Linked DNA regions of Homo sapiens. The protein of the gene in region 1 purifies or fractionates together with the protein of each later gene. This does not show direct contact. Each region holds a gene or a part of one and is shown in the gene's direction. Other genes may lie near its edges. The genes, in order: ZSCAN26, TRIM11, LRP4, MRPS27, TDG, PLIN3 and MYBL2.

Region 1 (3,500 bases):
CTGATAATCATCACTTTCTTGGACTTTTTTACTTATATTAAGAATACTAGGAATTGGCTTTTTAAAGTTTAAGTTCATTTTGACTAAGAAAAATAATTATCAGCTGGGAAATGTTAACTATATACACATTCAGGAATATATAACAGCAAACTGTTTGGAGGCTAAGCCACTGATTAAGTGAGCCTTCTCCCGTTCTCCCACTTACCGCATGCACATTGATTCAAAGGCATGTGTCAGCAGCTGACAGATGGTGTTTCACTGATCTATAGGGATACTCAAGCATAGTCAAAATCAAGAATGCTAAATCCCCACATACCAAGGGCCTGCCCCAAAGGATGGTAGGGAATTGTCTGAGTTCATTTTTGACATGTTGGATTTGAGAGGCTTCTGTAGGGTATCCTGGTCCCAAATAGGCAGAAGGAAATTCAGGTCTGACACTTGAGATATCTGACCTGAAGAATAAGGAAATCATCAGCATAAGGACAGTAATTGAAGTCACAAAAATACTTATACTCTACATTAGCCCTTTCTAGTTTCTGCCCTATCTTTCTTGTTCCATTCAATGTATTACTTTTTTGAAATTTGTCATTTATGCTCACTCTCCATTTTCTCATTTCCTATGGCAGGCTAGCTATTCTCACTACCAAAATTACCTTCACAGAGGTCACTAATGACATCTTTGTTTTTGAATCAAGTGTCTATGCCAGGTCTTAGATTAATTCACCATCTTATAGCATTTCACACTCTTGAACACTGTGCTCATATCATTTCCCTTATAAATCAGTGAATTCCTTCTGTTCTTTAGAATTATCTCATTTACCTCAAAACTTCTGTGAATTAGGTATTATCTTCATTTTACAAATGAGTAAACTAAGTCCAAAAGGATAAGTTACTTGCCCCAGGTCACAACATGTAAGTGACAGGGCTGGATTGGAACCCAGGCCTGTCTAAGGCCCAGGGTCTTTCCACCATTCCACATTTACAGAAATAGACCTCCTTGACCTTCTGGATACTATTGTCTTTTTTCTCCTCCTACCTTTCCAGTTCCATCTCACTTCTGTTTCTTACATGTAGATGTTTCCCAGGATTCCGGCTCCATATAACGTTTTCCCAGCCATAACTAACTACTACACTGAACATCCAACAGCTTTATGGTGTCTTTTTTGTCTGAAAAAACTTTCTCTATTTCCTTGTCTTTCACTTGTCTTTTTTCTTTTCTTTTTCTTTCTTTCTTTCATTCTTTTTCTCTCTTTTCTTCCTTTTTTGATATAGGTCTTGCTCTGGTTGCCCAGGCTGAACTCAGACTCCTGGGCTCAAGCAGTTCTCCCTCCTCAGCCTCCCGAGTAGCTTGGATTACAGGCATGTGCCACCATGCCTGGTGTCACTATGTTGCCCAGGCTGGACTCAAACTCCTGGGCTTAAGCAGTCTTCCCACCTCAGCCTCCCAAAGTGCTGAGATGACAAGTGTAAGCCACAGTGCCTAGCCTCAGTTATTTTGAGGGCTACAAAATGGTGATTTTTCAAATCTATTATTCCTTCTACATTAGATGGTATTCTGTAAGATAGTTTTTTCCTTCTGTATGTATGTTTAGAAATGGTTGTTTTAGAGAGAAAAAATGGATAATAGGAAATGTATAAACCCAAGAAAATGTTACTGTTCTTGTTAGCAGTACTATTACTGTTTCTGTCACTCTTGTTACTATAATTTTAGGAGTGTCTCTGAAGATACAGTCCAAAGAAAGTTCTCCAAAACAAGGAGAACAGTCTGAAGCTGGGGATGGCAACAGCATTGGTGAGTGCCCATTCCCTGGCTCCCCTGAATCTGAAGAAGGAGGGGCTTCGGGTAGTGAGGGAGGATCACTACTCTACTTGGGAACAGGGATTCAAGCTGCAAGGAAACAGTAAAGGCCTTGGACAGGAGCCATTGTGCAAACAATTCAGGCAGTTGCGTTATGAAGAGACCACAGGACCTCGAGAAGCACTAAGTCGGCTCCGGGAGCTCTGTCAACAGTGGCTACAGCCCGAGACCCATACCAAGGAGCAGATCCTGGAGCTGCTGGTGCTGGAGCAGTTTCTGATCATCCTGCCTAAGGAGCTCCAGGCCCGGGTGCAGGAGCATCACCCAGAGAGCAGGGAGGACGTGGTTGTTGTTCTGGAGGATTTGCAGCTGGATCTTGGAGAAACAGGACAACAGGTGGTAAGGGTCAGATGTGCTCTTTTTCAGGAATGCAGGAATTGAGATCTCTGGCCAGACAGGTGGACATGGGCTCATCAGCGGAAGGAGAATTACTAAGCTTTGATTCAGTTTTTTTCCAGTCTAGCTGTTAATTTCCTTAGGTCTTACCTCAACCTTACCTGGCCCTTGCTTGGAGAAAACTGAATGTGCACCAGATTCCCCATCTTCTTTTCTTTGCCCCTCTGGGGTTTCTCTTTCTTCTCTTTTTTAACACCTAGGTGTTTTACTGAACAGCAGTTTCCTAAACCCACATATATCTAATTATGCCTCCATATACCTAATTGTCCCTAGGACCCAGACCAGCCAAAGAAACAAAAAATACTTGTGGAGGAGATGGCCCCTCTGAAAGGAGTACAGGAACAGCAGGTTCGGCATGAGTGTGAAGTTACAAAGCCTGAGAAAGAGAAGGGTAAGAATTGGATTGCATCTTCTGTGTGTGAGACGTGGTGGACTGTGCCTTTCCCTCTGAGGTTGTGCTTAGCACCCTTGTATTTTGTTTTTTGCTTTTGTTTTGAGTCAGGTTTACTGAAGCATAATTTATATGTAGTAAAATTCACTCTTTTTAGATGTACAGGTCAATGAGTTTTCACAAATGCGAAATAATTGTGGTCTAATCAGGACCACTATCAAGAGATAAGAGATATCTATCACCCCAAATATTTTAGCTGAACAAAATAGCAAGAAAAGGGTACAAAGGGAACCTGGACCTTCACCTTGCTCTTCTTCCTCTTACTGTAGGGGTGAATAAAAAAAGCAGTGCCAGGCCAGCTACTTGGGAAGCTAAGGGAGAAGGATCACTTGAGCCCAGTTCAAGGCTGCAGTGAGCAATGATTGTTGCACTGCACTTCAGTCTGGGCAACATCTCTTAAAAAAGCAAATAGTGGCCAGGCATGGTGGCTCATGCCTGTAAACCCAACACTTTGGGGGGCCAAGGTGGGTAGGTATACGAGGTCAGGAGTTCAAGACCAGCCTGGCCAAGATGGTGAAACACTGTCTCTACTAAAAATACAAAAATTAGCCAGGTTTGGTGGCGGGTGCCTGTAATCCCAGCTACTCGGGAGGCTGAGGCAGAGAACTGCTTGAATCCAGGAGGCTGAGATTGCAGTGAGCTGAGATCACGCCACTACACTTCAGCCTGGGCGACACAGCAAGACTCTGTCTCAAAAAACAAACAAACAAAAAAAAAAACAAGTACTGCTAGTTTCTTAATCAAGGCAAAGAAAGCCACATGCTTCATTACTCATTTTTTAACATTTCCTTCAAA
Region 2 (3,500 bases), on another chromosome or scaffold:
AAAAAATACAAAAATTAGCTGGGTGTGGTGATGGGCACCTGTAATCCCAGCTACTCAGGGGGCTGAGGCAGAAGAATCACTTGAACACAGGAGGCAGAGGTTGCAGTGAGCCGAGATCGTGCCACTGCACTCCAGCTTGGGGGACAAAGCGAGACTCCGTCTCAAAAAAAGAAAACTGAAAATGTCCCGTAGGGACTGAGGCATTGAGGGAGAAGTGAGAGGCACTGGGCCAAGTGTTTGAGGTGGGGTTGGGGTCACAGGGGCCAGGCCTGAGTTTTCTGGAACAGGTCGGCAGCAGTGAGGAGAGAGGCCTGGGGACAGGGACCGCCATTTGGGGTTCTTGTAGCTCACGTGAGAGCTGAGCCTAGGCAGAGACAGTAAAGCAGTTGGACATGTCCTTGGTGCTCCAGCGGTCTTCCCGAATCGTGAGGCCAAGTGGTGAACTAAAGTGAGCACCTGGAGCCAGGCAGCTGGGCTGAAGTCCTGGCTCTGCTACCGGGGCAGACTTCTGGACCCTCCCAGCACCTCCATCCTTCCAGAGCGTGGATAGCGAGAGATGAGAGCCAAGACTTGGGGTGGCTGAGAAGCAAAGAGGTGTGGCCAGCACAGGGCCCGTTGCTGATAAGGGTGTCAGATGGGGTGGAAGTGAGCAGACCCTTCGAGAAGTGGGTTCAGGGCACCCCAAGCACACACAGTACAGTGAGCTTGTGTACAGGATTTTCACTGCTTCCTGGTATGCACAGCATGAGGAACCGTGGGAATGAGAATTAAGGACCAAGAAAGCAGAATGGAGGTGTACCCATCCTGGAGCTTATTACAGTGATAGCTGATGAAGCTGAAAATGCACAAGGTCCCGAGTGGCTTGGAGAAAAGATAGGGTGGGTAGCCAGGCATGTCTGTCCGTGCTGACTGTCCTACCAAAACACCATGGTTTGCACATGGCAGATGTATACAAGCTGGAGACTCACAGCTCTGGAGGCTGGAAGTCTAAGATCAAGCCCTGGCAGGTTTGGTGTCTGGTGAGGGTGCTTCCTGGTTCACAGACAACACCCTCTCACTGTGTTGTCATATGGTGAAAGGGGCGAGGGTTCCTTTATAACACTAATCCCATTGTGGCGGCACTGCCCTCCTGACCTAGTCACCTCCCAAAGCCCCCGCCTCCTAACATCATCACACTGGGTGTTGGGATTTCAACCTATGAATTTGTGGGGGCATAGGGCAGAATTTTTGGACCCCAGCATAGGCTTGGTCCAAGGCCCTTATGTGAGCCAGCAGGTGAGAAGGAAGAGGAGGAGGAGTAGACACTGGCTTGGGAACAGGAGAGCTCAGCACCTTCAGAGCCAGCTTGGGGACAGATGGGGTGGGCAGCCAGAACCCTTGAGGTAGCTTTGCAAAGGGGGGTGAGGCCTGGGCTAGGGTAGCAAGGTCGAGGACTAGAAATGCCCCATATGAGAAAAAGGAAAGAATGTGGCTGGGGCTGTCAGCCTCTGGCAAGAGGCTGCCCACCTACCATGAGGGCTCACGCTTATTGGAGGGCATTGAGTTCCCTGATTCACCAGGCAGATTTCAGTTTGTCCCCATTGTCTTTGAGGAGGGGACAGGGTGTCAGGTGCAAAAGGGCAGGCTTCTGTGACAGGACTCATGTCTCATGGTCCTGCCTGGCCTCTCCCGCAGGCGAAGCTGGAGAAGTCACTGGAGCATCTCCGGAAGCAGATGCAGGATGCGTTGCTGTTCCAAGCCCAGGCGGATGAGACCTGCGTCTTGTGGCAGGCAGGTGCTGGGGCTCCCAGGGTCCTGGGTGGCAGGGTAGGGGGTGAAGGTCCTGTATAGGAGACCCCAGGGGGCGATGCTGGCCAGGCACACTTGCCCTTGGCGCCCCAGGACCAGTCACTGCTTCAGCCTGGCCCCACCGAGCCCACTGAAGGGCTGGTCCTTTCCCACGTGCACCTGTCCTGCCAGGTCGTGGGCGTGGGCTCCCATACTGCAAGGGCCCCATCCTGGGGTCCCAGCATGCTTGGGTGGCAACTCTCAGGTGTATTTAGGGTCTGGGCCCTGGAGGTAAATTTGGAGGTTTTGAGGGACTAGGTCATAGATGTGGGATTCAGCCATCCTGAGGAGTAGATTTGGGATCTGTCCAGTTCTGGGGTAGATTTGGGGTCTGGGAGGCTCTGGGTGGTGGATTTGGGATCTGGGAAGCCCCAGGGGAGAATTTGGAGGTCAGGAGGGACCCTGGGTGGTAGATTTGTAGTCCAGCTGGCCCCAGGTGGTAGATGCAGGGTTCTACCAAGCCAATGGGTGGATTTGGAAGTTGGGGAGGGACTAGATAGTGGATTTGGGATCTAGTCGGCCCTGGGTTTAGATTTGGGGTCTAGCCAGTCCTGTGTGGTAGAATGGGATTTGGCTCTCCCTGAGTGGTGGATTTGGGGTTTGGGAGGTGCCACAGGTGGGTTTGGGGTCTGGCCAGCACCAGGTGGTGGGTTTGGGGTCCTGCCACACCTGGTGCTGTGCTTTGGCTTTAGCAGGCCCCGGGGGTGGGGTTGGGTGCAGCCAGGCCTCTGGGTGGGCTTGGGGTCTGACCAAACTTGGGGTCTGGCTGGGCCTGGGGTCTGGCCTCAGCTGTCCTTCTCCCTGGGCTCCACAGAAGATGGTGGAGAGCCAGCGGCAGAACGTGCTGGGTGAGTTCGAGCGTCTTCGCCGTTTGCTGGCAGAGGAGGAGCAGCAGCTGCTGCAGAGGCTGGAGGAGGAGGAGCTGGAGGTGCTGCCCCGGCTGCGGGAGGGCGCAGCCCACCTAGGCCAGCAGAGCGCCCACCTAGCTGAGCTCATCGCCGAGCTCGAGGGCCGCTGCCAGCTGCCTGCTCTGGGGCTGCTGCAGGTGAGCTGGGCGGGGAGCAGCCATGGTGGCCACACGGGCATGGCCTGGCCACACTGGGGGAGGGAGAACCAGAAAGTGCAAGAAGCAGGGGCAGAGAGGTTGTCTGGGCTGAGAGGTGAATGGCATGGCTGGATGTGCCTGGCTGTTGCCTGTGAAATGCTGAGTCAGCAGCAGGACAGATGTCCCACCCCCAAAACCCACGTGCCGAGAAAGGGAAAATCAATTTTCCTCTGTAGATGTAAACAGTTGATGTTTCTTAAGTGATTACATAAGGTCACTCCATCTCGTCCTGACTGACACTGCTGCTCCCTGTGGGCACAGCAGAGTGGGCATGTGCTCGCTGGGACCACCTTGGGCCTCCCATAGGATTCCTGCCATGGTGTCCCCAGCAGGAAGTCCTCGCCCTTCACTCTGTCTTCACCCCGCTGGCACACCCCATGCATCTCCATTATGGGGGGCAGTCTCCTCCTCCTCTGCTTCCAGGAGAGTCTTTTCCCATGTGTGGGCTCCACTCCCTGAGCCGGCCCCCTGGGCCTGGGCTTTCCTTGGTGCACCCCCAAACCAGAACCAGTGGACGCCCTGGCCTGTGGCCTGGCGGCAGGTCAGGGGGCCTGGAGTCAGCTCTCTC
Region 3 (3,500 bases), on another chromosome or scaffold:
AGCACTCTCTCTTTGGTTGTGAGAGCATGGTTTGGGGCCCTCTTCTCTCCGTCTCTGCCAAGAGCTATCCTGCTATGATATTTCTGCGTTTTCCTTGATTTCCTCTGCTAGAGGCTCCAGAGCTCTCTGACATGCTCTGGTGTTTCAAGACATGAATCAGCTGTGTGTGTCCCATTGTAGGCGGTGAGGGTCTAGGTTGAGCCAAGCTTTCCCTCTCCAGGAAAGGTGTACTGGTCTGACAGCACACTGCACAGGATCAGTCGTGCCAATCTGGATGGCTCACAGCATGAGGACATCATCACCACAGGTGGGCCTTCCTCCTAGCCCAGGGACCACCTGTCTGGCAACAGGGCTGGGGAAATAGCCCATCTGTTTTAAAATAGGAGCCAGTGTGCTCTTTTGACTTCCCACAGGGCTACAGACCACAGATGGGCTCGCGGTTGATGCCATTGGCCGGAAAGTATACTGGACAGACACGGGAACAAACCGGATTGAAGTGGGCAACCTGGACGGGTCCATGCGGAAAGTGTTGGTGTGGCAGAACCTTGACAGTCCCCGGGCCATCGTACTGTACCATGAGATGGGGTGAGAGCTGGCTGTATCGCACTGGGTAGTGTGGGGGGCCAGCTCAGCTGGGGTTATGACGGGGTAAAGGTGGGTAGTGGAGAGGAAGCTTGCATCACAGAAACAAGGTGACCTCCCTGGGGCTCTTCCACTCTCTTGTGACTTCTCGCAGGGTGACAGTACAGTGTAGAAGTTAAAAGCATGAGCCTTGAATCAGAATACCAGGATTGAAATGTTTTCATCATGTATTAGCTATATCACTTGGGTCCGGTATTTAACCTCTCTAATTCTCAGCTTCCTTACCTATTAAATGGAGGTGGTAGTGAAAATACATACCTTGTGGCCCTTATGAAGGTTGAGATAATGCACATGAAGTATTTTGCAAAGTACTTTGTCAAGCAAAAATTTTGCCTGACATACTGTAAGTACTCAAGTGTATCTGACATACTGTTAAGTATTCATGGTATGTGGTAGCTGCTGGAATAACTAGCTAATATAGCTAATATTCTTCCTCACTCAGGTTTATGTACTGGACAGACTGGGGGGAGAATGCCAAGTTAGAGCGGTCCGGAATGGATGGCTCAGACCGCGCGGTGCTCATCAACAACAACCTAGGATGGCCCAATGGACTGACTGTGGACAAGGCCAGCTCCCAACTGCTATGGGCCGATGCCCACACCGAGGTGAGAGCCGTGTCCCTGCTGCTTCCCAGGAGCCTGGGAAGATGGGAAAGGCCTGCCTAGGATCTCCATGGAGAGTTCCCAATCTGCTGATCACCACCCCCCACCCTCTCCTTCCTCTGCAGCGAATTGAGGCTGCTGACCTGAATGGTGCCAATCGGCATACATTGGTGTCACCGGTGCAGCACCCATATGGCCTCACCCTGCTCGACTCCTATATCTACTGGACTGACTGGCAGACTCGGAGCATCCACCGTGCTGACAAGGGTACTGGCAGCAATGTCATCCTCGTGAGGTCCAACCTGCCAGGCCTCATGGACATGCAGGCTGTGGACCGGGCACAGCCACTAGGTGAGAGTCAGAGGGCTGGGGCTGTGAGTCAGAGCCTCTGGCTTTCTGGGGCCATCTCAACATCAGAGATATATCCAGAGCACAGAGCTCCTTTACAGCCAGAAAGACGGTGACCTGTTTAAGCTCCCTTCCAGATTGGGCTGTGTTCTCTCTGGGTATGGCTGGTACTACAGCTGTCACCTTCAAAGGACTCCTGGAGATCCTCCTGCAGACCCTCCTTCTACCTCACCCTGCCAGGCACTGAATCCTGTCACTTAGAACAGCAAAGAGCCAGCCACAAACAACTGGGACCTTTGTAAGATTCAGATGATGTTCCAGGCTAGGTGTGAATACTTGTGCTTCTCATCACCAGGTTTTAACAAGTGCGGCTCGAGAAATGGCGGCTGCTCCCACCTCTGCTTGCCTCGGCCTTCTGGCTTCTCCTGTGCCTGCCCCACTGGCATCCAGCTGAAGGGAGATGGGAAGACCTGTGATCCCTCTCCTGAGACCTACCTGCTCTTCTCCAGCCGTGGCTCCATCCGGCGTATCTCACTGGACACCAGTGACCACACCGATGTGCATGTCCCTGTTCCTGAGCTCAACAATGTCATCTCCCTGGACTATGACAGCGTGGATGGAAAGGTCTATTACACAGATGTGTTCCTGGATGTTATCAGGTATGAGCAACACTGAAACCTCCAGAAGACACAGATTTGCTTCTGGTCGCCCATGGGTGAGGTTGTGTTCTGACCACTAAATGGATGAGTGATTTGGCACTTTGGATAGTGAGTTTTAATCCTGACTTGTTCACTTTGTAGTGTTGTCACTTACAGCAGAGTTTCAAACTTTCATTTGTTTAGAGATTATATGGAAGCCTAGTATGTAAAACAAACAACAACAACAAAAAAAACAGGTAAAGTCAGGGGACCTGGAGACTTTCACATCTACCATTGTGCCCTGAGGGAGCTCCAAGAATCCCCTAGGACTTACTGATGAGTAGGCCATATAACCAGTATCTGTATTGCAGTAAAGGAGCCCCAATCAAATGCCAAGTCTTATGGTGGTTTACAAAGCTGTTGTTTTTTATTTTTTCGTTGTTTTATTTTTAGTCTTTAAATTTGTGGCCCTAACACAGCTTAGGAATATGATGTCCTGCCACCAGTAAGAGTGGTTTACCATGGCAGATATTCTCACATGGAGGAACAGGGAACATTCCCCTTTGCTCTCCCCAAGGGATGTATTAGAATCTCAAACTGGGGACAGGTAGGCATATACAGTTTAGGGAAGTCCCCTAGGTGACAGTGACATGCTCCCCATTCTGAGGTAGAGTTCCCTCCTGCCCATAGGGCCTTTGCAAAAGTGCACAATTAGGGTCTGGCGTGGTAGCTCGCGCCTATAATCCCAGCACTTTGGGAGGCCAAGGCGGGAAGATTGCTTGAGCCCAGGAGTTCAAGACCAGCCTAGGCAACATAATGAAACCTCATATCTACTTGTATTTAAAATTGTTTTTAACTTTTAAAAAATGCACAGGTTGGTTTTGACAAATCTGCGTTTCTTATCATCACCACCTAGCAATCCTTGTCTCTTCCCAAAGGTATGTGGGGAATGATAAACTTGTCTTCTAGCAAGACATCCCCTGGCAACCGCCACTATGTCCAGTTAGCAGGAAATACTGTGTCCTCCTAAGAACTGGTTCCTTCATTCTGCAATTATTTTATTGAACATCTATCATGCTGGGTGCTGAGGAATGTACTCATAGATACCTGGTCTCTATCCCTGTGGAGCTTACAGTTCAGTGGGGTCCAGTTATGGGAACATGGGTTAAAGTTCTACTCTATTCTGGGTCAGTCTGGTTGCTCATCCAACACTGGGCTCTCCCCAAGGCGAGCAGACCTGAACGGCAGCAACATGGAGACAGTGATCGGG
Region 4 (3,500 bases), on another chromosome or scaffold:
TATTTTCTTAACTCCTCTTGTGGTCTTCAGAGCCCTTTTTGACTCTTCTCTATTTCATTACCAGGTGACAGGTTTGAAGGCAATGTTACAATCTCATGTAAGCTGTTTAGAGAAATAGTTGGTTAACATCTTCCCAGGCTTTGGGCTTATAATTATACTTTCTTTTCTCCTGTTCCCTATGTCATATTACACAGACAACAGCCTTTCTTTTGTAAAATACCAAGCCCCAAAAGAAATCACTGACTCAATGAGCAGTTTTTAAAAATGTGCATACTTTAGACTTTTGGTACTGCCTGCCCTTTGGTATATATAACATCATCGGAACATTAATAAAATAAATAGATTGGTGATAGTTTTATGAGACTGATGTAATTTTTGGATCAATTCCTATGCTGATCTAATATATTCCCCCAGATTTCTTTAGCTGTGTTTTGGGCTTATGTCAGTTAAGAATAAAGTCCCCTGTGTTTATGGATTTTTCCCATAAGTGCAGGAGACATTGCTGTCTCTAATGGCTACCTTATTGGGATTTTCAAAGATCTCATCCTTTTCTTTACTGATGATGTGATTGCACAAGCAGAGTTGGCTGTGAGCTCTGAGATGGGTGTATGTGCACAGGCCAGCTGAAGCAGAGCTGTGGAAGATCTGAAGATAAGTAATCGCAGCTTCTCCATGAGAAACTTACAGTCTCATTCTGTCTATAAGAGGCCCAGGGTAGCCTTCTTATAACAAGTACTTTATCATACTCTTCTTTTGCCATCTTGAAACTAAATTCATAGTTAATATAATCTATCTATACTTACTGTTTTAAAAACCAGTATATGGCTGGGTGTGGTGGCTCACACCTGTAATCCCAGCACTTTGGGAGGCTGAGGCTGGTGGATCATGAGGTCAGGAGTTTGAGACCAACCTGGCCAAGATGATGAAACCCCGTCTGTTAAAAAATACAAAAATTAGCCGGGCGCAGTGGCAGGCATCTGTAATCCCAGCTACTCCGGAGGCTGAGGCAGGAGAATCGCTTGAACCCGGGAGGCAGAGGTTGCAGTGAGCCGAGATCTTGCCACTACACTCTAGCCTGGGCAACAGAGCAAGACTCCATCTCAAAAAAAAAAAAAAAAATCAGTATGATTCCTTCGCCACGATACAGAGGAGAAACAAAGGGGAAGTAACTTAAACAATATGTATTTCAATTTGTAAACAAATGTCCAGGCAAAACTACAGTAAGAAACAATGAAGCAGGTAAATATTGCATATAAATGTGGAATAATTATAGACATGGAAGAAGTGTAGATGGGTAGAGATGCGGTATACTGGCAAATTCAAATACCAGGAGTGGCGCTATCATAATGACATAATTTTATTTATAGAATGAACAACTCTTGGTAAAGTTCTGATTGATTCAAAGGTATGTCTTCCCTCAATATAGAGTTGCAAAATTCACCTTATTTTCCATTAAAAAAACTTTGCTTATATGAAAAATGGAGTTAGTTCCATTAATGATAAACAGGTTGTTTTTGATGGTATAATTATGTCACAAATGACATGGCAAATTTTTTTAATCTTTTAATTTGGAAATAATTTTGTTGTTGTTATTGTCATTGTTGTTGAGACAGAGTCTGTACTATCTATCGCCCAGGCTGGAATGCAGTGGCGTCATCTCGGCTCACTGCAACCTCCGCCTCCTGGGTTCAAGCGATTCTCCTGCCTCCACCTCCTGAGTAGCTGGGGTTACAGCCGCACGCCACCACGCCCAGCTAATGTTTGCATTTTTAATAGAGACAGGGTTTTGCCTATTGGCCAGGCTGGTCTTGAACTCCTGGTGTCAGGTGATCTGCCCACCTCAGCCTCCCAAAGTGCTGGGATTACAGGCTTGAGCCACCGCGCCCAGCGGGAAATAATTTTAAACTTATAAAAACTGCAAAGAACTCCTCTATATCTGTCTTAGTTTGTTTTCTGTTGTTTATAACAATACCTGAAACTGGATCATTTATCAAGAAAACGAATTTATTTCTTACAGTTAGAGAGTCTGAGAAGGCCAGCGTTGAGGGGTGGCATCTGGTGAGAGCCTTCCTGCTGGTGAGGACTATTCAGAGTCCTGAGGTGGCTCAGAGCATCACATGGCGAGGGGGCTGAGCATGCTAGCTCAGGTCTCTCTTCCTCTTATGAAGCCACCAGTCCCACTTCCGTGATAACCCATCAATCCATTAACCCATTAGTCCATGAATGGATTAATTCATTCATCAGAGGAGAGCCCTTATGATCCACTGGCCTCTCAAAACTGTTACACTGGGGATTAAATTTCAACATGAGTTTCAGAGGAGACAAATATTTAAACCACAGCGCTACTTTTACTCATGTTCACCTGTCGTTACCATTTTGATTCATTTGTTTTTGCTTTCTCTCTCCTCCTTCCCCCTGTATACACACTTTCTTTAATCATTTGGGAGTTTGTTTCATATATTATAGCTCTTTATCCTGAATACTTCAATGTACATTACCTGAGATAAGGACATTCTATTGTATAATCATAGCACAGTTACCAACTTCGGAAATTTTGACATTAATATAATACTTTACTATTCATATCCCAGTTTTGGGAATTGACCCAATAATAGGGTCTCTCATAGCATTTTTCCTCTTCCAGTACAGGATGCTGTCTAGAATCATAGTTCCTTATCCTTTCTTTGTTTCTTATGACATTGTCCTATATATTTTTAAAGAACCCAATCTCTTTTTTTAAATAGAATATTCCTCTTTCTTGGATTTTTCTGCTATTTTCTCATTGTTATGCTTCCCCAGCCAGAATACTCTCAGTGATGTTGTGCCCCTGCCAGGGTATCACATGTGGACATACCTGATATCATATGCCTTCACTGGTGATGTCAGTTTTGATCACCTAGTCAACTGTGTCTGATTTCTCCACTGCAGAGTTACTGTTTTTCTCCCTTCTGATTAATAGGCTATTCTCGGAGAGAGACTTTAATGTAATGCAAATATGTTGTTTATCAAAAGTTTGCTCTTAGATTTGGCATCCATTCATGGCTTTAGCCTGAATCAATCTTTACTATAATGGTTGCAAAGTAATGATTTTCCAACTCTGAAAATTTCTCCAGATTTACTAGCTAACACTCAGTATTCTACTATAAGCAAGAACTCTTCCTTTTCTCTCATTTCTTTCTCATTTATCTGTTTATTATCATGCATTATGTTTAAATCATCAATTTGTGAATTTTTTAAATGATTCATTACCCTTCTCAATTATTTTGGTGGTCTAAATATCCCAGACTTGGCTGATAGAAGCCCTTTCAAGCTGGCTTCCATTTTCCCCCACCCCCCTCTTTTTTGATAACTTACTTTCTCTCATATAACAAGGTGTTTCAGGCTCACTGTGTACCCTTCCTGGCCTAGCCCTGGAATCAACCATTTCTCCAAGGAGCTCTGGTTACTTTTGGTGAGGAATGGCATTAGAAACCAAGATCTAGGTGCTAGGTGTCCTTTTG
Region 5 (3,251 bases), on another chromosome or scaffold:
GTATGGTATTGGATTTACCAACATGGTGGAAAGGACCACGCCCGGCAGCAAAGATCTCTCCAGGTAAGTACACAGCATTTGCTTTTATGGGTTGGAACCTTGAGTATGCTGGTGCCCCAAATATTCTAGGAACATCATATGTATCTAGTTCAAGCTGAGCTCAACAAATGTACAATATGCTCTTTCATTGAAAGCTGTCTGAATTTAGCATATTATAAATATTGTCATATTTATATTTTTGACTACTTTTTAATTCAATTTTAGTAAAGAATTTCGTGAAGGAGGACGTATTCTAGTACAGAAATTACAGAAATATCAGCCACGAATAGCAGTGTTTAATGGAAAATGTAAGATTTACTTTTAAATTTTTTTTTTCTTTGCTAACATTATGGGCAATGTAAATATGTTTGTATTTCATTTTAGGTATTTATGAAATTTTTAGTAAAGAAGTTTTTGGAGTAAAGGTTAAGAACTTGGAATTTGGGCTTCAGCCCCATAAGATTCCAGACACAGAAACTGTAAGTCCCTAAAATTGAATTTGTAAATCAGCTAAATGTGAATTTTTTTCTAGATAATTTCCTTATTTGTCCTATCCATTGTGATTTATACCATGCAAAACAATTACACTGTATTTTGTTGAATAATACCTATACATCAGCTTTAACTAATAGTTGTAAATTAATTCAAATACTATTAGGGTTTATTAGAAAGAAAAACATTTGTCAGCTAAATGTCTTGATGTTGTTATTCAGTGAAAATATTGAGAGGAACTGGCTCATATACTACATTCAGAATACATTTAATGGCATGTAGTTGTCAAATTCAAATGGTTTAGCCCTCGTACTGTTGTGAAACAAACATGGAAACACAGACATGATCCTGATTAGGAAAACCAGTTGCCCCATTTATATATCTTAGCTCAACTTCATTTTAGAGCCATATAAATAATACAACCCAGACAAGCCTCCAGCCAACCTAACTGGCATTCAATACTGTTGTCTTATACACAAAGTCATCATGAAATAACAGTGTTTTTCAAATTGTCCTCTCTACAGAGCTTCTGCAGGCATTTGGTTCCAATTTTGCTTCTTAGTTTTAGGTTTTATTTACAACTTTTAAAGAACAACACAGTGCACAGATTTACATGTTGTATATACAACATCTTAACTGATGGAGAAGCTAATTTGCTGCCAGGTTTTTGTGGAAACCTAAAAATGTTTCTGCCACCTAAATATATTTAAATTTCTCCTTTAAAATTGTTTTTGTTCATAATTTCTTATAAATATGCAATTGATGAGTTTTATTATAGCATTGGTTTTTGCTTAAATAAAGGCCCACCTTTGTCTGCTTGGTTAAAATGGTACAAATTCACTACCTGTAGTGAATTGTAGAGAAATTCCTGTAGAGTACTGTGTCATTCTCTGTTACATGCCATTTGGAGGCCGGGCGTGGTGGCTCATGCCTATAATCCCAGCACTTTGGGAGGCCGAGGCAGGCGGATCACCTGAGGTTAGGAGTTCGAGACCAGCCTGGCCAACATGGTGAAACCCCATCTCCACTAAAAAATACAAAAATTAGCCAGGCATGGTGGCATGCGCTGTAATCCCAGCTACGTAGGAGGCTGAGGCAGAAGAATCGCTTGAACCCAGGAGGCAGCTCATTAGGCGGAGGCTCATTATTTTTCACTTCCTGACTTGGTAATAAGTCAGTATTACAAATTCAACCTTAAAAGCAACTACTTTTATTGATTTTTACATATATTTATATGTAGTTAAGTATCAAGTTATTAACCCAAATAAAGACAAATATTCTAATCTCAATGAGTGAATTCAATAGAATTATAAGATTTCTGAAATTATAAAATGTTGTGATTCTAGCTCTGCTATGTTATGCCATCATCCAGTGCAAGATGTGCTCAGTTTCCTCGAGCCCAAGACAAAGTTCATTACTACATAAAACTGAAGGACTTAAGAGATCAGTTGAAAGGCATTGAACGAAATATGGACGTTCAAGAGGTGCAATATACATTTGACCTACAGCTTGCCCAAGGTATGTTACTGTCCTCATTCCTTTTATTCATTTTGTGTGTGTATATATACACATATATACTTACATATATATACACATATACATATATACATATACACATATACATATGTGTGCACATATATGCACACGTGTATATATACATGTGTATATATACATATATACACATAAGTATGTATGTCTATATACATATATGTGTGTATACACTTGTGTGCGTATACATATGTGTGTGTCTATATATAGACACATACACACACACACACACACACACACACACACACACACACACACATTACAGAAAGTATCTTATGGATTTAAAAGCAGGAAAAAAGAAAACAATTATATTCGCAGCCAGAGTGCTCTGATAATGAATATTAGTCACTGTTAAAATCTCCTTTTACCAAGGTCTTCCCTCTACTCTGGCACTTCTGCAGATAATTCACCTGCAGAGTGCCAGAGCAGAGGGATGTAAGAAATATTGTACCCTACGTAAAGTTGAATGTAAGCGGTTTTTACAGTTCTTATGTGTTTATTTAGTACATGCTATAAGTTTAAAAGATTAATAGAGATGTATCTCAGTGTATATGAATATTCAAGAAAAAGAATTGTTCATGATTTCTGAATAAAGCTACTTTTAAAATTGTTGTACAAAATCAGATTTAAATCCTTTTTACCTTCCTCACAGAGGATGCAAAGAAGATGGCTGTTAAGGAAGAAAAATATGATCCAGGTTATGAGGCAGCATATGGTGGTGCTTACGGAGAAAATCCATGCAGCAGTGAACCTTGTGGCTTCTCTTCAAATGGGCTAAGTATGGTTCCCTCCACATGTGTATTCCTTTCAAAGACGGTTTGGTCAGGATTGGGGGGAAAATTTTAATAGAAGGAGAGTAAATTATTGAAGAATGGGAATGATAATATGAAATTTTATTTAGTGACTAATAGTGAAAAATTGATGGTTATTTCACGTTGAATTACACAGACTTTTACAGTACATTTTCTTTTTTGTTTGTTTGTTTTTGAGACAGATTCTCGCTGTGTCACCCAGGCTAGAGTGCAGTGGCTCGATCTTGGCTCACTGCAAGCTCCCCCTCCTGGGTTCACACCATTCTCCTGCCTCAGCCTCCCGAGTAGCTGGGACTACAGGCATCCGCCACGATGCCTGGCTAATTTTTTTTGTATTTTTAATAGAGACAGGGTTTCACC
Region 6 (3,500 bases), on another chromosome or scaffold:
CCCAGTTGGGAGGGGGGAATCTCAAAGGCCCTTGGAGGGCCTGAGGGAGCAGGGTTCTGTCTGAAACTACCTGCCCTCCCCAACCCCTGAGCCAAATCATCCTCACCTCTGAAGGCTCTCTCAGGGACGTCCTAGGAGGCCAGTTTCTATTCCAGATCTCTCATCCTCAGGTGATTTTATTTTATGTATATATTTTTGAGATGGAACCTTGCTGTGTCGCCCAGCCTGGAGTGCAGTGGTGACATCTTGGCTCACTGCAACCTCTGCCTCCTGGGTTCAAGCAATTCTCCTGCCTCAGCCTCCCAAGTAGCTGGGGTAACAGGCATGTGCCACCACGCCCGGCTAATTTTTGTATTTTTAGTAGAGACGGAGTTTCACCATGTTGGCCAGGCTAGTCTCAAACTCCTGACCCAAAGTGACCCACCCGCCTCGGTCTCCCAAAGTGCTCGGATTACAGGCGTGAGCCACTGCTCCTGGCCCCAAAAATAATTAAAATTTAAAAATCAAGTGGTGCGCTGGCTGTGACCCATGGGCTGTGGTCTACAGCCCCCGGTTTAGACCCTAACTGCCATGAGAATGGAACTGTTGTCCCTTATCACCACCTGGCACATCGCTGGGATAAAGTGCAGGCTCATGTAAATAGCCTGTGTTCAAGGAAGCACGTGGGCTGAGTGCGGTGGCTCACGCCTGTAATCCCAGCACTTTGGGAGGCTGAGGTGGGCGAATCACGAGGTCAGGAGTTCAAGACCAGCCTGGCCAACATGGTGAAACCCCATCTCTACTAAAAATACAAAAAAATTAGCTGGGCGTGGTGGCACCCGTAATCCCAGCTACTCAGGAGGATGAGGCAGGAGAATCGTTTGAACCTGGGAGGTGGAGGTTGCAGTGAGCTGAGATCGCATCAGTGCACTCCAGCCCGGGCAACAGTGCAAGACTCCGTTTCAAAAATAAAATAAAAATAAAGGAAGCACGTGGCGAAACCCCAAGGTTCCTGGCTTGTGCAACTGCCTGGATGCAAAGTGTGGGTAAACTGAGCCGTTTCACTGGCCAGGAGTAAGAGCAAAACTGCAGGGCACCCTGAGTTTCCGGCTGAGCTCCCCATCTTCCCCCACCCAGTTTGCCTGAGCCACTTCTCTCCTGTAGCCCAGTGTGGTGGACCGTGTGGCCAGCATGCCTCTGATCAGCTCCACCTGCGACATGGTGTCCGCAGCCTATGCCTCCACCAAGGAGAGCTACCCGCACATCAAGACTGTCTGCGACGCAGCAGAGAAGGGAGTGAGGACCCTCACGGCGGCTGCTGTCAGCGGGGCTCAGCCGATCCTCTCCAAGCTGGAGCCCCAGAGTGGGTGAAGTCCCAGGGGGCACTGAATTCCCCTCCTGGTCATTTCCCTGGGTGGGGAGTAGGGGGGTCTACCCAGCTCTTGGTCCTGTCCCCCTGAACCATTACTAGGTGACCTTCCAGCAGTCACATTTGCGTCTTAATTGTTGTTGGCAGTTGCATCAGCCAGCGAATACGCCCACAGGGGGCTGGACAAGTTGGAGGAGAACCTCCCCATCCTGCAGCAGCCCACGGAGAAGGTAACGATGTCCGTCCTCAGGGGCTCTGTCGAGACAGGGACCTACCTGGGTGTGGAGTGCGCTGGTCCCAGCTTAACTAGACAAGCTTGATGGCATCCTCCCTGCTGCCTCTCCTGTCGGTTCCCATCCCCACCCCGAATCCACTCCCCACAGGGTAGCTGGAGGAATAATTGCAAAGCCAGCCAGATTACAGGCGCCTGCAACCATGCCCATCTAGTTTTTGTATTTTTAGTAGAGATGGGGTTTCACCATGTTGGCCGGGCTGGTCTCGAACTCCTGACCTCAGGTGATCCAGCTGCCTCAGCCTCTCAAAGTGCTGGGATTATAGGAATGAGCCACGGTGCCCAGCCCACTTGTTTTTATAATAAAGTTTTATTGGCACACAGCCATGCCCATTTATTTACATATTGTCTATGACTGCTTTCACCCTACAATGGCAAGGTTGAGTAGTTGTGACAGAGACTGTGACCCACAGTACTGAAAATCTTAGTTACGTGGCCCTTTACACAGAATGTTGCCACCTCCATAACTTATTAGTCAGAAAAGGTTGGCGGCAGGAAAGTCAAAACATCAAAACACCATGTTCCTGGCCGGGCGCGGTGGCTCATGCCTGTAATCCCAGCACTTTGGGAGGCCAAGGCGGGAGGATCACCTGAGGTTGGGAGTTTGAGACCAGCCTGACCAACATGGAGAAACCCCGTCTCTACTAAAAATACAAAATTTATCTGGGTGTGGTAGCGGGTGCCTGTAATCCCAGCTACTCGGGAGGCTGAGGCAGGAGAATTTCTTGAACCCTGGAGGCGGAGGTTGCAGTGATCCGAGATCATGCCATTGCACTCTAGCCTGGGCAGCAAGAGTGAAACTCCATCTCAAAAAAAAAAAAAAAAACCAAAAAAACACCATATTCTGGCCAGGCGCGGTGGCTCATGCCTGTAATCCCAGTACTTTGGGAGGCTGAGGTGGGCGGATCACAAGGTCAGGAGATCGAGACCATCCTGGCAAACACAGTGAAACCCCATCTCTACTAAAACTACAAAAAAAAAAATTAGCTTGGCGTGGTGGCGTGTGCCTGTAGTCCTAGTTACTCGGGAGGCTGAGGCAAGAGAATCACTTGAACCCAGGAGACGGAGGTTGCAGTGAGCTGAGATCGCGCCACTACACTCCAGCCTGGGCGACAGAGCGAGACTCTGTCTCAAAAACAACAAAACAAAAAAAACACCATGTTCCAAACTGTGTCCTGCCCCTCAGCAGCTGGGTGGCCCTCACACAAGTTACTTTGCCTCTGTGGGCCTCACTTTTTTTTTTTTTTTTTTTTTTTTGAGACGGGGTCTTGCTCTGTTGCCAGGCTGGTGTGCAGTGGTGCAATCTCGGCTCACTGCAACCTCCACCTCCGGGTTCCAGCGATTCTCCTGCCTCAGGCTGCTGAGTAGCTGGGGTTGCAGACGTCTGCCACCACGCCTAGCTAATTTTTGTATTTTTAGTAGAGACGGGGTTTCACCAAGTTGGCCAGGATGGTCTCAATCTCTTGACCTCGTGATCCTCCCGCCTCGGCCTCCCAAAGTGCTGGGATTACAGGCATGAGCCACTGTGCCCGGCCCCCTCTTTTTTTTTTTAAGATGGAGTTTCGCTCTTGTTGCCCAGGCTGGAGTGCACTGGTGCAGTTTCAGCTCACTGCAACCTCCACCTCCCAGGTTCAAGCGATTCTCCCGCCTCAGCCTCCCGAGTGGCTGGGATTACAGACATGTGCCACCACACCTGGCCAATTTTTGTATTTTTAGTAGAGATGGGGTTTTACCATGTTGGTCAGGCTGGTCTCGAGCTCCCGACCTCAGGTGATCCACCTGCCTTGGCCTCCCAAAGTGTTGGGATTACAGACATGAGCCACCAGGCCCAGCCTGGGTCCCACTTTCTTTTCTACAGAA
Region 7 (2,435 bases), on another chromosome or scaffold:
AAACGCACACACGTTTCTTTACTTGATTACTTGATTTTTTTTTTTTAAGTAAGAAAGTTCTTTAGAACAAGATTAAGTTCTTTGCTTAATTTTTTTTTGAGACGGAGTCTGGCTCTGTCTCCCAGGCTGGAATGCAGTGGTGCAATCTCGGCTCACTGCAAGCTCCACCTCCTCCCAGGTTCGCACCATTCTTCTGCCTCAGCCTCCCAAGTAGCTGGGACAACAGGCGCCCACCACCACACCCAGCTAATTTTTGTGTTTTTAGTAGAGACGGGGTTTCACCCTGTTGACCAGGATGGTCTCGATCTCTTGACCTCGTGATCCGCCTGCCTCGGCCTCCCAAAGTGCTGGGATTACAGGCGTGAGCCACCGCTCCTGGCCCTTTGCTTAATCTTTTAAGTATAAAGTAAGCTTAAGCTCATGTAAACTCCCTATCTGAAAGCAGAAACTGAGGCTTGGAAAAGTGTGTATCCTCTTTCAGGTCTCAGCAGCCAGGTGGTGGTGCTGGGGTGGGATTGCGGGTTTTTTTCTTCCCTCTCACAGCTTCTCGCAAAATGGTGACTCCTTGACTTGGTTTTGGTTTCAGCCGACAACTGCCCCTTCAAACTCTTCCAGCCTCACCCTGTCAGGTATCAAAGAAGACAACAGCTTGCTCAACCAGGGCTTCTTGCAGGCCAAGCCCGAGAAGGCAGCAGTGGCCCAGAAGCCCCGAAGCCACTTCACGACACCTGCCCCTGTGAGTGCTGTGGCCATCTCTGGGGGTCCTGCAGTGCCCGCCTTCTTAGCTCAGGGCTGAGTGCTGGCCATCCCTGGGGGTCCTGCAGTGCCCGCCTTCTTAGCTCAGGGCCTTTGCATAGGCTGTTCCTCTGCCTGGGTGCTTTTCCTGCTACTTCCCGTGGCTGCATTTGCTTAACTTACTCTTCTGATTTCAGTCTCAATGCTGCTTCCTTAGGGGTAAGCCTTCTCTGACCCTACATTCTGTAGAGATACCCCCATTCTGCCATTCTCTCTTTTGTGGCCTGGGTTTCACTTGTAACTAAGTCATTATCCCTGTATTTGGTTTGCTTAGTACATGTCTGTCCTCAAGCAGGGGCTGGCTTCAGGCTGCTGACCCGTCTCACTGCTCCTTCTCACCCGCCTCCTGGCTGTGGCTTCTCCTCGAGGCTGGTGCTGCACGGGGCGGGCAGTGCATGGCCATGTCTCCTTGTCCAGCGTCCTACTTACAGTTGAGGAAGCCCACAGCCAGGAAGTGACTTGTCCAGGGTCACAGGGAATGTGGAGAGAGAATAAGAAGGCTCTGGCTTCTAGGGGAGGGAGGCTTATAACTCTACCCTTCCCTGGCCAGGATCACCAGGGTCTGTTGGGAACACATAGTCCCTGCCTGGATGGTAACCCTCTTGCCTCCTCCCAGATGTCCAGTGCCTGGAAGACGGTGGCCTGCGGGGGGACCAGGGACCAGCTTTTCATGCAGGAGAAAGCCCGGCAGCTCCTGGGCCGCCTGAAGCCCAGCCACACATCTCGGACCCTCATCTTGTCCTGAGGTGTTGAGGGTGTCACGAGCCCATTCTCATGTTTACAGGGGTTGTGGGGGCAGAGGGGGTCTGTGAATCTGAGAGTCATTCAGGTGACCTCCTGCAGGGAGCCTTCTGCCACCAGCCCCTCCCCAGACTCTCAGGTGGAGGCAACAGGGCCATGTGCTGCCCTGTTGCCGAGCCCAGCTGTGGGCGGCTCCTGGTGCTAACAACAAAGTTCCACTTCCAGGTCTGCCTGGTTCCCTCCCCAAGGCCACAGGGAGCTCCGTCAGCTTCTCCCAAGCCCACGTCAGGCCTGGCCTCATCTCAGACCCTGCTTAGGATGGGGGATGTGGCCAGGGGTGCTCCTGTGCTCACCCTCTCTTGGTGCATTTTTTTGGAAGAATAAAATTGCCTCTCTCTTTGTGCTGGTCTGGACTCTGCCTCTCTACTGGGCCCTGCTCATGGTTCCCTGGTGACCTAGGGGCCTCTTCTGGGATATAGGGACCTGAATGCTCATCCTCAGAGGCCAGCCTTATCGGCACAGCCCAGGCCTGAGCCCTTGACCCTGTTTCCACAGAGGGGCACAATGAGATGAGAGCAATTTCTCTCGTCTCTGCACCCAGTGGGCATCTCTGCAAAGCTCTGAGTATTAATAGCCATGGGGTTGGGCGGGGGTGGGCAGAGACTGGGGGCGGAGGAGGACGATGGGTTGGTGCAGTAGGGCCTTGCCTGGCCCTTGCCTTGGGTGGCTCACCTGCCCATTAACAAGCCCCTGCCTCAAGCTGAGCGTGGCCCCCAGGTCAGACCAGTAAGCAAGGAAGAGGGGTGAAGGCAGCTGGGCAGAACCCTCTAGCCCCATTGGCCAAGGCTGAGCAGGAGGCCAGGATGGGCCAGAGCCTCTGCCCTTGTGGCCCTAAATCC

The links.
Region 2: the proteins of ZSCAN26 (region 1) and TRIM11 purify together in Homo sapiens (affinity purification with mass spectrometry; 3 studies listed by BioGRID and IntAct, with this or other methods). This does not show direct contact.
Region 3: the proteins of ZSCAN26 (region 1) and LRP4 purify together in Homo sapiens (affinity purification with mass spectrometry; 3 studies listed by BioGRID and IntAct, with this or other methods). This does not show direct contact.
Region 4: the proteins of ZSCAN26 (region 1) and MRPS27 purify together in Homo sapiens (affinity purification with mass spectrometry; one large-scale study listed by BioGRID and IntAct). This does not show direct contact.
Region 5: the proteins of ZSCAN26 (region 1) and TDG purify together in Homo sapiens (affinity purification with mass spectrometry, with the first as the bait; one large-scale study listed by BioGRID). This does not show direct contact.
Region 6: the proteins of ZSCAN26 (region 1) and PLIN3 purify together in Homo sapiens (affinity purification with mass spectrometry; one large-scale study listed by BioGRID and IntAct). This does not show direct contact.
Region 7: the proteins of ZSCAN26 (region 1) and MYBL2 purify together in Homo sapiens (affinity purification with mass spectrometry; one large-scale study listed by BioGRID and IntAct). This does not show direct contact.

The regions. Positions count from the first base shown.
Region 1 is NC_000006.12:28,270,143-28,273,642, forward strand, and holds part of ZSCAN26 (zinc finger and SCAN domain-containing protein 26), read left to right. Parts: intron 1-1,711; 5' UTR 1,712-1,777; coding exon 1,778-2,197; exon of another isoform or gene 2,198-2,527; coding exon 2,528-2,645; intron 2,646-3,500. UniProt on the Homo sapiens protein: May be involved in transcriptional regulation.
Region 2 is NC_000001.11:228,400,336-228,403,835, reverse strand, and holds part of TRIM11 (E3 ubiquitin-protein ligase TRIM11), read left to right. Parts: intron 1-1,674; coding exon 1,675-1,770; intron 1,771-2,641; coding exon 2,642-2,872; intron 2,873-3,500.
Region 3 is NC_000011.10:46,873,551-46,877,050, reverse strand, and holds part of LRP4 (low-density lipoprotein receptor-related protein 4 precursor), read left to right. Parts: intron 1-220; coding exon 221-307; intron 308-413; coding exon 414-585; intron 586-1,084; coding exon 1,085-1,247; intron 1,248-1,369; coding exon 1,370-1,595; intron 1,596-1,947; coding exon 1,948-2,251; intron 2,252-2,634; exon of another isoform or gene 2,635-3,457; coding exon 3,458-3,500. UniProt on the Homo sapiens protein: Mediates SOST-dependent inhibition of bone formation. Functions as a specific facilitator of SOST-mediated inhibition of Wnt signaling.
Region 4 is NC_000005.10:72,310,241-72,313,740, reverse strand, and holds part of MRPS27 (small ribosomal subunit protein mS27), read left to right. Parts: intron 1-3,500. UniProt on the Homo sapiens protein: RNA-binding component of the mitochondrial small ribosomal subunit (mt-SSU) that plays a role in mitochondrial protein synthesis. Stimulates mitochondrial mRNA translation of subunit components of the mitochondrial electron transport chain.
Region 5 is NC_000012.12:103,982,872-103,986,122, forward strand, and holds part of TDG (G/T mismatch-specific thymine DNA glycosylase), read left to right. Parts: coding exon 1-63; intron 64-264; coding exon 265-347; intron 348-423; coding exon 424-518; intron 519-1,877; coding exon 1,878-2,049; intron 2,050-2,731; coding exon 2,732-2,857; intron 2,858-3,251. UniProt on the Homo sapiens protein: DNA glycosylase that plays a key role in active DNA demethylation: specifically recognizes and binds 5-formylcytosine (5fC) and 5-carboxylcytosine (5caC) in the context of CpG sites and mediates their excision through base-excision repair (BER) to install an unmethylated cytosine.
Region 6 is NC_000019.10:4,857,668-4,861,167, reverse strand, and holds part of PLIN3 (perilipin-3), read left to right. Parts: intron 1-1,143; coding exon 1,144-1,342; intron 1,343-1,495; coding exon 1,496-1,578; intron 1,579-3,500. UniProt on the Homo sapiens protein: Structural component of lipid droplets, which is required for the formation and maintenance of lipid storage droplets. Required for the transport of mannose 6-phosphate receptors (MPR) from endosomes to the trans-Golgi network.
Region 7 is NC_000020.11:43,714,548-43,716,982, forward strand, and holds the end of MYBL2 (myb-related protein B), read left to right. Parts: intron 1-586; coding exon 587-736; intron 737-1,411; coding exon 1,412-1,540; 3' UTR 1,541-1,935; downstream 1,936-2,435. UniProt on the Homo sapiens protein: Transcription factor involved in the regulation of cell survival, proliferation, and differentiation. Transactivates the expression of the CLU gene.